Linked DNA regions of Homo sapiens. The protein of the gene in region 3 purifies or fractionates together with the protein of the main gene of each other region. This does not show direct contact. Each region holds a gene or a part of one and is shown on either strand. Other genes may lie near its edges. The genes, in order: STK40, PML and SNX11.

The links.
Region 1: the proteins of SNX11 (region 3) and STK40 purify together in Homo sapiens (affinity purification with mass spectrometry; 3 studies listed by BioGRID and IntAct, with this or other methods). This does not show direct contact.
Region 2: the proteins of SNX11 (region 3) and PML purify together in Homo sapiens (affinity purification with mass spectrometry; 4 studies listed by BioGRID and IntAct, with this or other methods). This does not show direct contact.

The regions. Positions count from the first base shown.
Region 1 is NC_000001.11:36,347,885-36,351,533, forward strand, and holds part of STK40 (serine/threonine-protein kinase 40), read right to left. Parts: intron 932-3,649; coding exon 816-931; intron 1-815. UniProt on the Homo sapiens protein: May be a negative regulator of NF-kappa-B and p53-mediated gene transcription.
Region 2 is NC_000015.10:74,039,619-74,043,267, reverse strand, and holds part of PML (protein PML), read right to left. Parts: intron 280-3,649; coding exon 129-279; coding exon of another isoform or gene 88-128; exon of another isoform or gene 1-87.
Region 3 is NC_000017.11:48,117,645-48,120,961, reverse strand, and holds part of SNX11 (sorting nexin-11), read right to left. Parts: intron 2,259-3,317; coding exon 2,163-2,258; intron 1,989-2,162; coding exon 1,776-1,988; intron 1-1,775. UniProt on the Homo sapiens protein: Phosphoinositide-binding protein involved in protein sorting and membrane trafficking in endosomes. Regulates the levels of TRPV3 by promoting its trafficking from the cell membrane to lysosome for degradation.

The DNA.
Region 1 (3,649 bases), on a different chromosome or scaffold from region 3:
TTATGATCCCGCCACAGCCTCCCAAAGTGTTGGGATTACAGGCATGAGCCACTGCACCCGGCCTGTGAGTTACTTATTTGTTTCGTGTATTATCTGTCTCATCCCCACTAGAAAGTCAGCTCCATGAAGGCAGCAATGTTTGTCTACTTTGTTCCCTGTTGTCTCCAAAGTGTCTAGAACAGAGCTTTGGGCCTGGGTGGCCCTCAGCAAACAGTAACAGAATGAATGAACACAGACAAGGAGAGAGGGCTCTGAAACACAAACTCACAGCAGCACACTCAGTTAAGAACTGTTCAATGGCTTCCACTCGCACTTGAAGTAAAGGATGACATCTCTTACTGAGGCCTATGTCAGGCCTTGCCTGATCTGGCCCCTGCGCACCTCTCTGGCTTCCCCTTGAACCAGGCTCACTTTCTGAGCAGCCTGCAATTGCTCCAACGTGCTGTGCTGCCTCTGGGACCCTCAGCCTCAGCCTAGTCACACATACCCAGGGAATTCCTAGTTTCCCTTAAGATCATAGCTCAACTGTCACACCTTGTGGGGAAAGTCCTCCAAGCACCCTTCATCCACTCTCACAGCAATCCCGTTCCTCCCTAGCACTAACCTCAGAGGAATTAAACATGCATTCATGTTATCATTACGTCTTCCACCTCCAACAGACCAAACATTTTGTATGGGGAGGGACAGTACTGGTCTGGGCCCCCAGTGAAGCCCCAGCACCTTGCCCAGGGCCTGCCCACAAATTTGCTGAGTGGACTGTCACAGAGCCTGGCTGTATTGAGCTTAGAGGCCCAATGTCTGGCACACACACGTACCGCTGAGCACGTCGGGACTGATGTAGGCAGGGCTCCCTCTCTGGTCCTTCAGCAGGTCCCCCTCGCTCACCAGATGCTTCCCGAGGCAGAAGTTGGTGATGGTTATCCGATGTGTCCTAGGAGTGGGAGACAGAGTGAACAAACCTCAGTGTCTATAGCAACAGGCACAAGACACGCAGGCAGGACACACCTCACTGGGCCAACACCCAATCCTGAACAGTAGGAGGTAGGCTTCTCGTCAGAGGGTGAAGCAGCTGCCCCGACCCCCTCTCCAGGGAGCAGAGCAGAGGAATCAGGCCCCAGACTTTTCTGGCCACCAGCCGAGCTGTCCCAGCAGGGATCGGCTTCTCTCCCAGGTATCTGAGTGTTGCACAGGCCATCCCTGGACCTGCTGCCCGGGCTGAATCTCGGGGTACAGCTTAGGGCTTAGAACAACTTTCAGAGATTTCTCAAAAACAGCCTCACGTAATATTCTAGACTGGGAGTGACCTGAGATTTAGTTCAATTTCCTCATTCACACATGAGGAAAAGGAAGTCCAGCAGAGGTGAGTGACTCCACCTTGGAAGGTGACCCAAGGGCTGGCCCCGAGCCACCTCCGAACCACGGAATATGTCAGTTCTCACTTGGCCCCACAACCACTGCAGAGGAAGAAACTGACAGTGGCCAATGAGGGGGATTTTCTCACGGTCCTGTTTCAGATGATACAACAAAGGCACAGGGAAGTGAAAGGACTTGGCCAAGGTCATGCAGCTGGTGAGCAGAAGAGCAGGATCCAAGACCAGGTCTGCAGGGCCCCAGAGCTGCACACACAACTGACAGCTGCCTCATGCCCAGATGTGTCCCTGGGCAGGGCCCCAGGCCCCGAATGACTTTTCCTTCTGTTCCATCAAAGCTGACTCATCCCTTACCTCGTACTTGTGACTCTGCCCTGGCTAGAACATCACAGACCCTCCCTCTGAAAGGCGTGGGGCAGGGCAGCTTTGGGCTCTGATCCTTTGGAGAAAACTCACATGTGGACAAAAGGAAGTGCCCCGAGAGGACCCTTACACCTTACACCACACTGGGGGCTGGGAGGGTGGGCAGGCCCTGTCTAAGAGGCCTGGGAAAGGTTTCCTGGCCCACTGGGGCAGGCAGTGAGGAAGGATGCCTCTCTACCCAACTGCCCTGCTCCTGTGTCGGCTGGCTGGGTGGAGAAGCTAGGGGGAGAAGCTGGGAGGACAACAGGAAGGAGAGCTCCATGGGGGCCTTGGGCTGCCTCTCCCTACAATCAGCTCTCAGAGGCAGAGGGCATGTGTGGCTGCTGGCGGATTTCCCCGGGAGCCGCATCCAGGCGGCTCTGAGAGCCCTCGGTGATCTCGGGGAATTCTGCTGGCAAAGGGCTCGATGCAAAACAAAGGCCAGCCCGTCCTCTGGATTCCCCACGGAAACGCCAACTCCAGCGCCTATACAGGTCCGCCCTGTCAGCTGCCATAGGAGTCTGACTGGTGGCCCGCAGGCGGCTAGAGCCTGATCGCACAGGTGAAGGGTCACTGCAAAGGGTCACTTGCACGTCAAGGAGTGGGCTGCTCTAGCTCTGAAGCTCCAGTGCCGCTGCCCTGAATATGGGGCTGCTCGGGCCTCTTGTCCAGAAGGTTCCCACAGAGCAGAGGCACTGTGGGTTTTCTCCCCTGGTCAGAGATGGCCGCGGAAGCTGCAAATGCATCCTGTGGGTCTCTGAGGCTCAAGACGCTGAGAGGAGGACAGCTCAGGAGAAAGTACGGTGGGTTTGGGAGCCAGGTTCCTAGTCCTGGCTCTGCCACTTCCTTGCTCTGTGAATCTCTTGCTAAACCTCAATTTCCTCATGCGTACAACAGTGAAATCCCAGCACCAAACTCCAGAACTGGGTTAGGATTCAGCAAGATAAGATAATCTCATGGAGGGCACTTAGCCCAATGCCTGGCAAATAGTAGAAGCTGGTGTCCTCTCATCTCCGATGGTTGGCACACCTGGTAGGAAAAGACTCTGTCTTGGAGGCGGTAGGGGAGAGGTGCCATGGTGTGACAACAGGCCCCGGAGAGCACATGCCAGTGTGGCTGAGCTTTCAACTCAACACTGCTGGTGGGACTTTCCCACCCTCTGCCAGGGCACGGGCAGGCACAGCTGAGGCTCTGCAGGGCTGAGCGGCAGGCGCACTGGAGTCTCTCCACAGGAAGTGGCACGGGCAGCTCCAAGTCCTCCTGAGGTTTGGCAACACTCCCCTGCCCTGCCACCACCACCCAAGTGGGGGGTGCATGGCTCCCCGGGAGTCCCAGACCCCCTAGTCTGGTCCTGACAGGAGGGGGCAATGGCAGAGTGGGACGGAGGGAGGGGACGTGTGTCAGTAGGATCGGCTCTGAGTGAGTCACGCTTTAGCTATGGCCCTCTGGGCTGCCACAGTGTTTTTCTCCTTTTCTAGGAACTTGGTATGTTGCTTGCCTACCAAAAAGAAAGGAGGAAGGAAAAAGACCCCACAGCACCTCACATAACCCCAGAAGAGGATTTCGAATTTCGATCCTTTTAAAATCCAAAGCGGGGTGAACTTGTTGTTGCAGCTGCCTTGCCAACACCTCCCCCTGTCTGCTCCTTGAGAGCTCTCTGCTCTGCTGAGAAGGCCTCCAGCTGGTCCGCCTACTGCTCCAGTGGAGTTATAGCCTGGCATGATGGGTGGGAAGGGGCTGGAGTGGGCTGGAGCTCCTTCAGGTCAACTGAACGAGGTGAGAGTGGGGCCCCAGAGCGGAGGGTGTGCCAGAGGACACACACGGAGCAGTGAGTCTCTCTGCACCACACTACCCTGCCACTCTGGAGCGCCCATGAC
Region 2 (3,649 bases), on a different chromosome or scaffold from region 3:
AGCCTGGCTGCAGTTGTTGGCCAGAGCTCAGAGCTCTCCTGGGCCTGGCAGATGGCTCTGCCTGCACTTCTTTTTGGGACTCAGAGACTAAATTAGAAAGGGGTGGGGGTAGCCCCAGGAGAACCCACTTTCATTGTCAATCTTGAGGTCAAAGAAAACCAGAGGTCTGTCTTCTGCTTGGGGGTCAGCAAGGTTCTCGTCCAGGACCCTGAGGGTGCTGGGGCCTTCCAGCTGGAGGTCACTGGACTCACTGCTGCTGTCATCCAGCTCTCGGGAGGACTGCAACACAGAAAAACCAAGCGTCAGGGATTCAGAGGGCCAAGGCAAGCACCTGTGCAGAACACTAGCAAGCTGGTATAGCTGGGAGCATCTGCGTGCACATGAAGGAGGGTGTACCACTGGGAAAGGGGACGTGTGCACAAGAGAAGGTATGTGTGCATGAATGGGTGTGAACTGGGTGTGTCACATGTGAGGGTTACATGTATGAACCAGGGCATACACCCTCATGAGTAGGGGAGGAAGGGTGACACACACAGGTTGTGAACGTGCATGTGTGGGAATGAATCCAAGTGCTAAATCTGTGTGTGCATGCACAGTTAAGTGTGAGCTGTGAACCTGCGTTGACACAAGTGTATGAAAGTGTGAGAGAAAATGCCAGTGGGTGTGTGCATGAGTGTGCTGTGCTGCTTATGGAGGCTCAGGGAAGGAGCCATCTGCTATGGCAGGCAGGACCTGAGATGTCTGCTCCTAATTTCATCTTTCTGAGCAGACTCAGAAGAAACACCAAAACTTGGGACGGGAGAAAGAAGCCTCATCTTGAACCCCAGATGATTCTTTGGAAGGGGTCGGGAGCCTGCCTTTTCTTGTCCCCGAAGTCAGCCGAGGTGCCAGTGTCCTACACAAAGGCGAGGGGAAGGACTGCTTGGCCTCCTGAAGGCCACATCTAGGTGGACACCCAGGTCCTTGGCAGTGAGAGAGCAGTGGAGGCTCTTGGCATCTGCCCCAGCAGCTTAGAGAAACCTGAGTTTTGGGAGTCCTTCAGGTGAGGCGTTCTCTCCTGTCCCAAGGTCCTGGTGGGAACACTGTTCGAGAAGCCATGGGGTGGGGAGCCAGAGGATGAGGGAAGGGCTCCAGCTCTGAGATTTTCCCAAGGGACTGGGACTACAGAGGGAGGTGGAGCCTCTGATGGTAATACAGAGTTAATTGCTTATCATCTGCTCAGCTGCCAAGCCCAGATGTTTAGTCTTTGATGACCAACTTGGAACCTCCCATGAATGCCACCTGTGGACGTTAGCCAGAGACCAGCAAGGAAGAGACATGGACAGGATCACAGGGCCAATTGGGAGCATGGCTGGGACAGAGTCCAGGGCAGGCCTTGGGTTTTTCCTCTTTATGGACTGCCGCTGGCTTCTCAATGAAGTTGGTGTCACCTGGTGCTAAAGCCTCAGTTAATTCTGGCCTCTGGCTAATGTCCCTGGCCTAGGAGGCAGCACATTTCCCCAGACCCTTCCAATGCCCAAGTGAAACATCTGCTTCCAACCAAGCTTCAACTGAGAGAAAAAGCGTTTCCACCCACAAGTAACCTAAGATGTGGTGGGTTTTTGTAGGAGTGGCTGGATTTCACTGGATTTGCATTTCACAGCCCTGCTCCAGGCTCATCAGCTTTCTGCCAGTTATTGTCAGAAGCAGACACTCACTATGAATCCATCTAGAGCTGGCTTTGCCTCTTCATATCCAGGGATCTAGTCAGAGAGTCTGCCCAGCGCCTCGCATCTCCAGATCCTCATTCAGCCACGCTGTCAAAAGCTGATTTCACACGTCTTGCTCCGGGTGAGCCCACACTGCTGTCTCGCCTTTCCAACTCGGTTTCCTCCCTGTAAGGAGCCTTCTACAAGGCGTCTTCCTAGCTTGTAGCTGGGTGGCTGGAGACTCCACCTTCTCCCGCTTTGGGAGAATCCAGTTGTTTCCTCTCTCCAGGCTTCACTGGGCAGCAGCGCTCTCCCACAAGCTGGTGGAGGGGCTGGGCTCCCCTTCTGGGTCCTCCCTGGTTCAGATCCTTGGTGCCAATAGCTGAGGCTGAGTCCATGCTGCCACCCACTGACATGGCACACAGGACTTTCTCTTTTTCGTTCTTCTTCCTGCTCCAAACCCAACTGGAAATGCCCCTTTGTGTTCCTGAGTGCCTCCACAAAGCTCGGGGCAATGTCCTCGGCCTTAGAACCAGTCTTCCCGCCTTCAGATCTGCTCTTCCAAGAGGAGAGCTCCCTGGAGAGCCACAGTACTGTCTCTTTAGGCCACCCCTCCCATCGTTACAGCAGGGTCATTTATGGCAGCCACTAGAACCTCGTTTTTAGAGCCTTCCATTGTCCCGGGGCCAGGGAAATGTCCTTTGTCCTAAACTTACTCGAGCTGCCTTCTCTAAGAAACCTCTACTGTCTCCTTTAATAAAAGGACACCCCCTTTCCACCAAGCTTGTTAATGGAGGAGAGGCTGGACCTTTCAGCCCTGACTCACTTCCTCCAAAATTCCTCTTGCCCTTGGGGACTTCCATAAAGTATGGCCACCCATGGAGCTGGTCTCACTGGAACTCCAGCCAGCTGTAAACCCAGAATTCTCCCCTGCTCCGCCTTAAACTCCAGCATCACAGCTGGGGAGTGCTGACGCATTTAAACAAGACTTTCTGAAAGACTCAGGTTTGCCAGCAGGGCCATCAGACATAGTGGCCTGGTGCAGAACATACTCCCCTCCCTGCTCACTAGGGGAGACTCTCCCATTCTGCCCCCAGGCCCCACACCTTGGCCTTATTCCGCAAATTAGGATAACTGGGTGTCGGGGGAGCATAGAGAGGGACAGTCACTGGAAAAGACTTAGATTTGCTTGGAAGAGAAAAGGAAGGGGGACAGAAGAAAGAAGATGGGAAACAGAGCCTTGAGCCTGCGTGTGAGGACCGGGAATCAAGGGGGAAAGCTTTGCTATGCAGTGAGAGATGCCAGGCGCCAAAGAAAAGGGGAAGAAGGACTGAAGAAGTGCTGCTGGGGTTATGAGCTGGATTCCCTTTAATGTTCTTTCAAAAGATGCAAGTAAATACTGGGATTTATTTCTTTATTATACTTGGTTAATGGACATTGTTTCTTTGAATGCAAAACTGTGTTCAGGCTGAGCCTCGTGAGAGCCAGGATTTTTTCAGGATATACATGCAACTTGGATACACCTGCAATCTGGCTCATGAGCTACATCCATCTCACTCCCCTTCCTCATAGATTTCACGGCCTGAGCAGGTCAAGTGCATTCTAACTCAACACAGCAGGTCTAACAGTCGTCCCAAGCATGCTCAGAGGAAGTGGCTGGATTGGCATTGTAATCACACTCCAAAAGTCCAGGAGGTACATCAGGGAAGATCCAGCCTCTCCCCTCCTCTGCGGTATTACACCCTGGTATGAAAATGTCACCTGCATTCAAGACTGCCACATCTATAAACAAATGAGCAGCATTCCTCTACCACAGACATGCAATGAATCCCCCGATTCAGTGGTTCTTGACTTTGGTTAGGCATTCATAGCTTTAAGAAAAAACTGAGGCCCAGGCTGCACCCAAGACTGATTCGATTAGAATCTCAGGGCGTAGGACCTAGGAATCTGTAGTTGGGAAA
Region 3 (3,317 bases):
GGAAGTCTCTCTGAGCCTGTTCTGACTCAGGAGGCTGCCCGATTAAAAAAAAAAAAAATGGCTGGGCATGGTGAATTATTTGAGTCTGGGAGGTGGAGACCAACCTGGGTAACCTGGTGAAACCCTATCTCAATTTAAAAAAATAAAAAAGAGGCCGGGCGTGGTGGCTCACGCCTGTAATCCCAGCACTTTGGGAGACCGAGGTGGGCAGATCACGAGGTCAGGAGATGGAGGCCATCCTGGCTAACACGGTGAAACCCCGTCTCTACTAAAAATACAAAAAAAATTAGCCGGGCATGGTGGCGGGCGCCTGTAGTCCCAGCTACTCGGGAGGCTGAGGCAGGAGAATGGTGTGAACCCGGGAGGCAGAGCTTGCAGTGAGCTGAATCGTGCCACTGCACTCCAGCCTGGGCAACAGAGCAAGACTCCATCTCAAAAAAAAAAAAAAAAAAAAGGCCAGGTGCGATGGCTCACACCTGTAATCCCAGCACTTTGGGAGGCTGAAACGGGTGGATCACCTGAGGTCAGGAGTTCGAGACCAGCCTGGCCAACATGGTGAAACCCTATCTCTACTAAAAATACAAAAACTTAGCTGGGTGTGGTGGCAGGTGCCTGTAATCCCAGCTACTAGGGAGGCTGAGGCAGAAGAGTTGCTTGAACCTGGGAGGCGGAGGTTGCAGTGAGCCGAGATCATGCCACTGCATTCCAGCCTGGGTAACAGAGCAAGACTCTGTCTCAAAAAAAAAAAAAAAAAAAAAAACAGATAAATGCAAGTGAATGGATAAACAAAATGTGGTATATAGCACCATATAAATGGACTGCTATTTAGCCATAAAAATGGGGGAAAAAAAGAGAAAAAAACAGTAATGAAGTAATGACACATGATAAAATACAAATGAACCTTGAAAACATTGTTAGATGAAAAAAGCCAGTTACAAAAGACCACAAATCATATGACTCCATTTGTGTAAATGTCCAAAATAGACAAATGCATAGACAGAGAAAGTAGACTAGTGGTTGCCAGGAGCTGGGGGGGAGGGAAGGACAGGGGAGTCACTACTCATGGGTACAGGGTTTCTTTCGGGGTGATGAAAATGTTCTAAAATTGACTGTGGTGGCTGACAGTTATACAACCCTGTGACTATATTAAAAACTACTGAACTGTATCTAAAAAGGTAAACTTTATGGCAGGTAAATTGTGTGTCAATAAAGCTATTAGGCCAGGCTTATGCCAATAATCCTAGCACTTTGGGAGGCAGAGGCAGGCGGATCACCTAAGGTCAGGTGTTTGAGACCAGCCTGGCCAACATGGCAAAATCCCGTCTCTACTAAAAATACAAAACTTAGCCAGGTGTGGTGGCACTTGCCTGTAATCCCAGCTACTCAGGAAGCTGAGGCAGGAGAATCGCTTGAACCCAGGAGGCAGAGGTTGCAGTGAGCCGAGATCACGCCACTGCACTCCAGCCTGGGTGAAAGAGTGAGCGTCCGTCTCCACACAAAAAAATAAATAAATAAAAAGGGAGGGAGGAGGAATAAAAAACCGAATAAATGAGAAAGCTTTCCCTTCTTTCTCCCCAGGTTTCAGTAGGAGCCCCTGCTACCCAGTGGTGGGTTAACACAGACCCACCTGGATAGAAAGCCACGCACCCAAAGAACAAGAAAGGTTGTGAAAGGCTACCAATGCTATGACATTACTTTCCCTAACAAATGGACACCTCTCTGGTCCAGGTTATAGCAAACCTAGCCCCTGCTATCTCAAAGAGTACTCCAGTTACCTCTTAGGCTGGTCTCCTTTAGCCAGGTGAGAAGAGCTCTGCCTCTCTTCCTGGGCCCAGCCACAGTTTGACATAGCATATCGAAGAATGGCATCAGACACAGTCATGGTACTTCGGCCCTGGACACAGGCTTCTATCTCAGGCACCGAGAGCTGGCTTTGCAGGAATAGGTGCAACTGGCTGTCTGACAGGAGAACCACACTCTGCAGGACCCTGGGAAAAACACAGGTAGCACAACACAGAGCATCACCCTGAGGAACTGCTCTCCATTCCCCATCCTCTTAAGAACTTCTGGCTACCTGAGCAGGGAGCTCCATCCTGCCTGGCACATTCCTCCACCCCTGCCTCCACCCTTGGTGGCCAGCACCAGCCGTTCTGTCCACTCACTTTTCAAGGAAGTGCTGCAGACCTTGTCGTCGCTTCTCAATGAACTCATCTGAGGTGCCGAAGAAGGTTGACTTCCCAGGAAGTTCAGGAACAGGCCTGTGCAGCCACATGATATAACACCCATGATAAGTGTAACATCTAAGATAGTCATTCCGGCCTCTGATCAAGGAAATCCCTTAAAAAGAGGTCTAATCAATACAAATAGCTTTTTTTTTTTTTTTTGAGATGGAGTCTCGCTCTGTCGCCCAGGCTGAAGTGCAGTGGTACAATCTCGGCTTACTGCAACGTCTGCCTCCCGGGTTCAAGCAGTTCTCTGCCTCAGCCTCCCGAGTAACTGGGATTACAGGTGCAGGCCACCACACCCAGCTAATTTTTTGTATTTTTAATAGAGACGGGGTTTCACCATGTTAGCCAGGATGGTCTTGATCTGACCTCGTGATCCCTGCCTGCCTCGGCCTCCCAAAGTGCTGGGATTACAGGCATGAGCCACCGTGCCTGGCCCCAATTAGCTTTTAATAAGGGGTGGTGCTAACATTGACTGCATGCCAAGTGTCAAGCCAGACTGTGCTAAATGTTTTATAAACATGATTTCATTTAGTCATCCCAAAACCCCGTGAGAAAGATATTAACTCACTTCAGATCAGAGAAGTTAAGTAAATGTCTCACTGTTACACAGCTAATAAGCAGCAAAGCTCATATCAGAACCAGATCTATGACTATAAAACCCATGCTGATACATTATTTTTGTCTGTTTGATTTTAGAGACAAGGTATTGCTTTCCAAGCTGCTCTCTCCAGGTTGCCCAGGCTGGAGTGCAGTAGCATAAACGTGAGCATAGCTCGCCGCAGCCTCAAATTCCTGGGATGAAGTAATCCTCCTGCATCAGCCTCCCAGAATAACTATGACTACCGGTACGTGCCACTGTGTGCACCTAATTTATTTATTTGTTTACTTATGTATCTGTAGAGACAGTATTGCTCTGTTGCCCAGGCTGGTCTCAAACTCCTGGCCTCAAGTGATCCTCCTTCCTTAACCTCCCAAAGCACTGGAATTACATGTGTGAGCCACCAAGCCGAGCCACACTATGTTGTTTATGAAACCCACTCCCAGCTTGGTGCCATGGTTCATGCCTGTAATCCTGGCACTTTGGGAGGC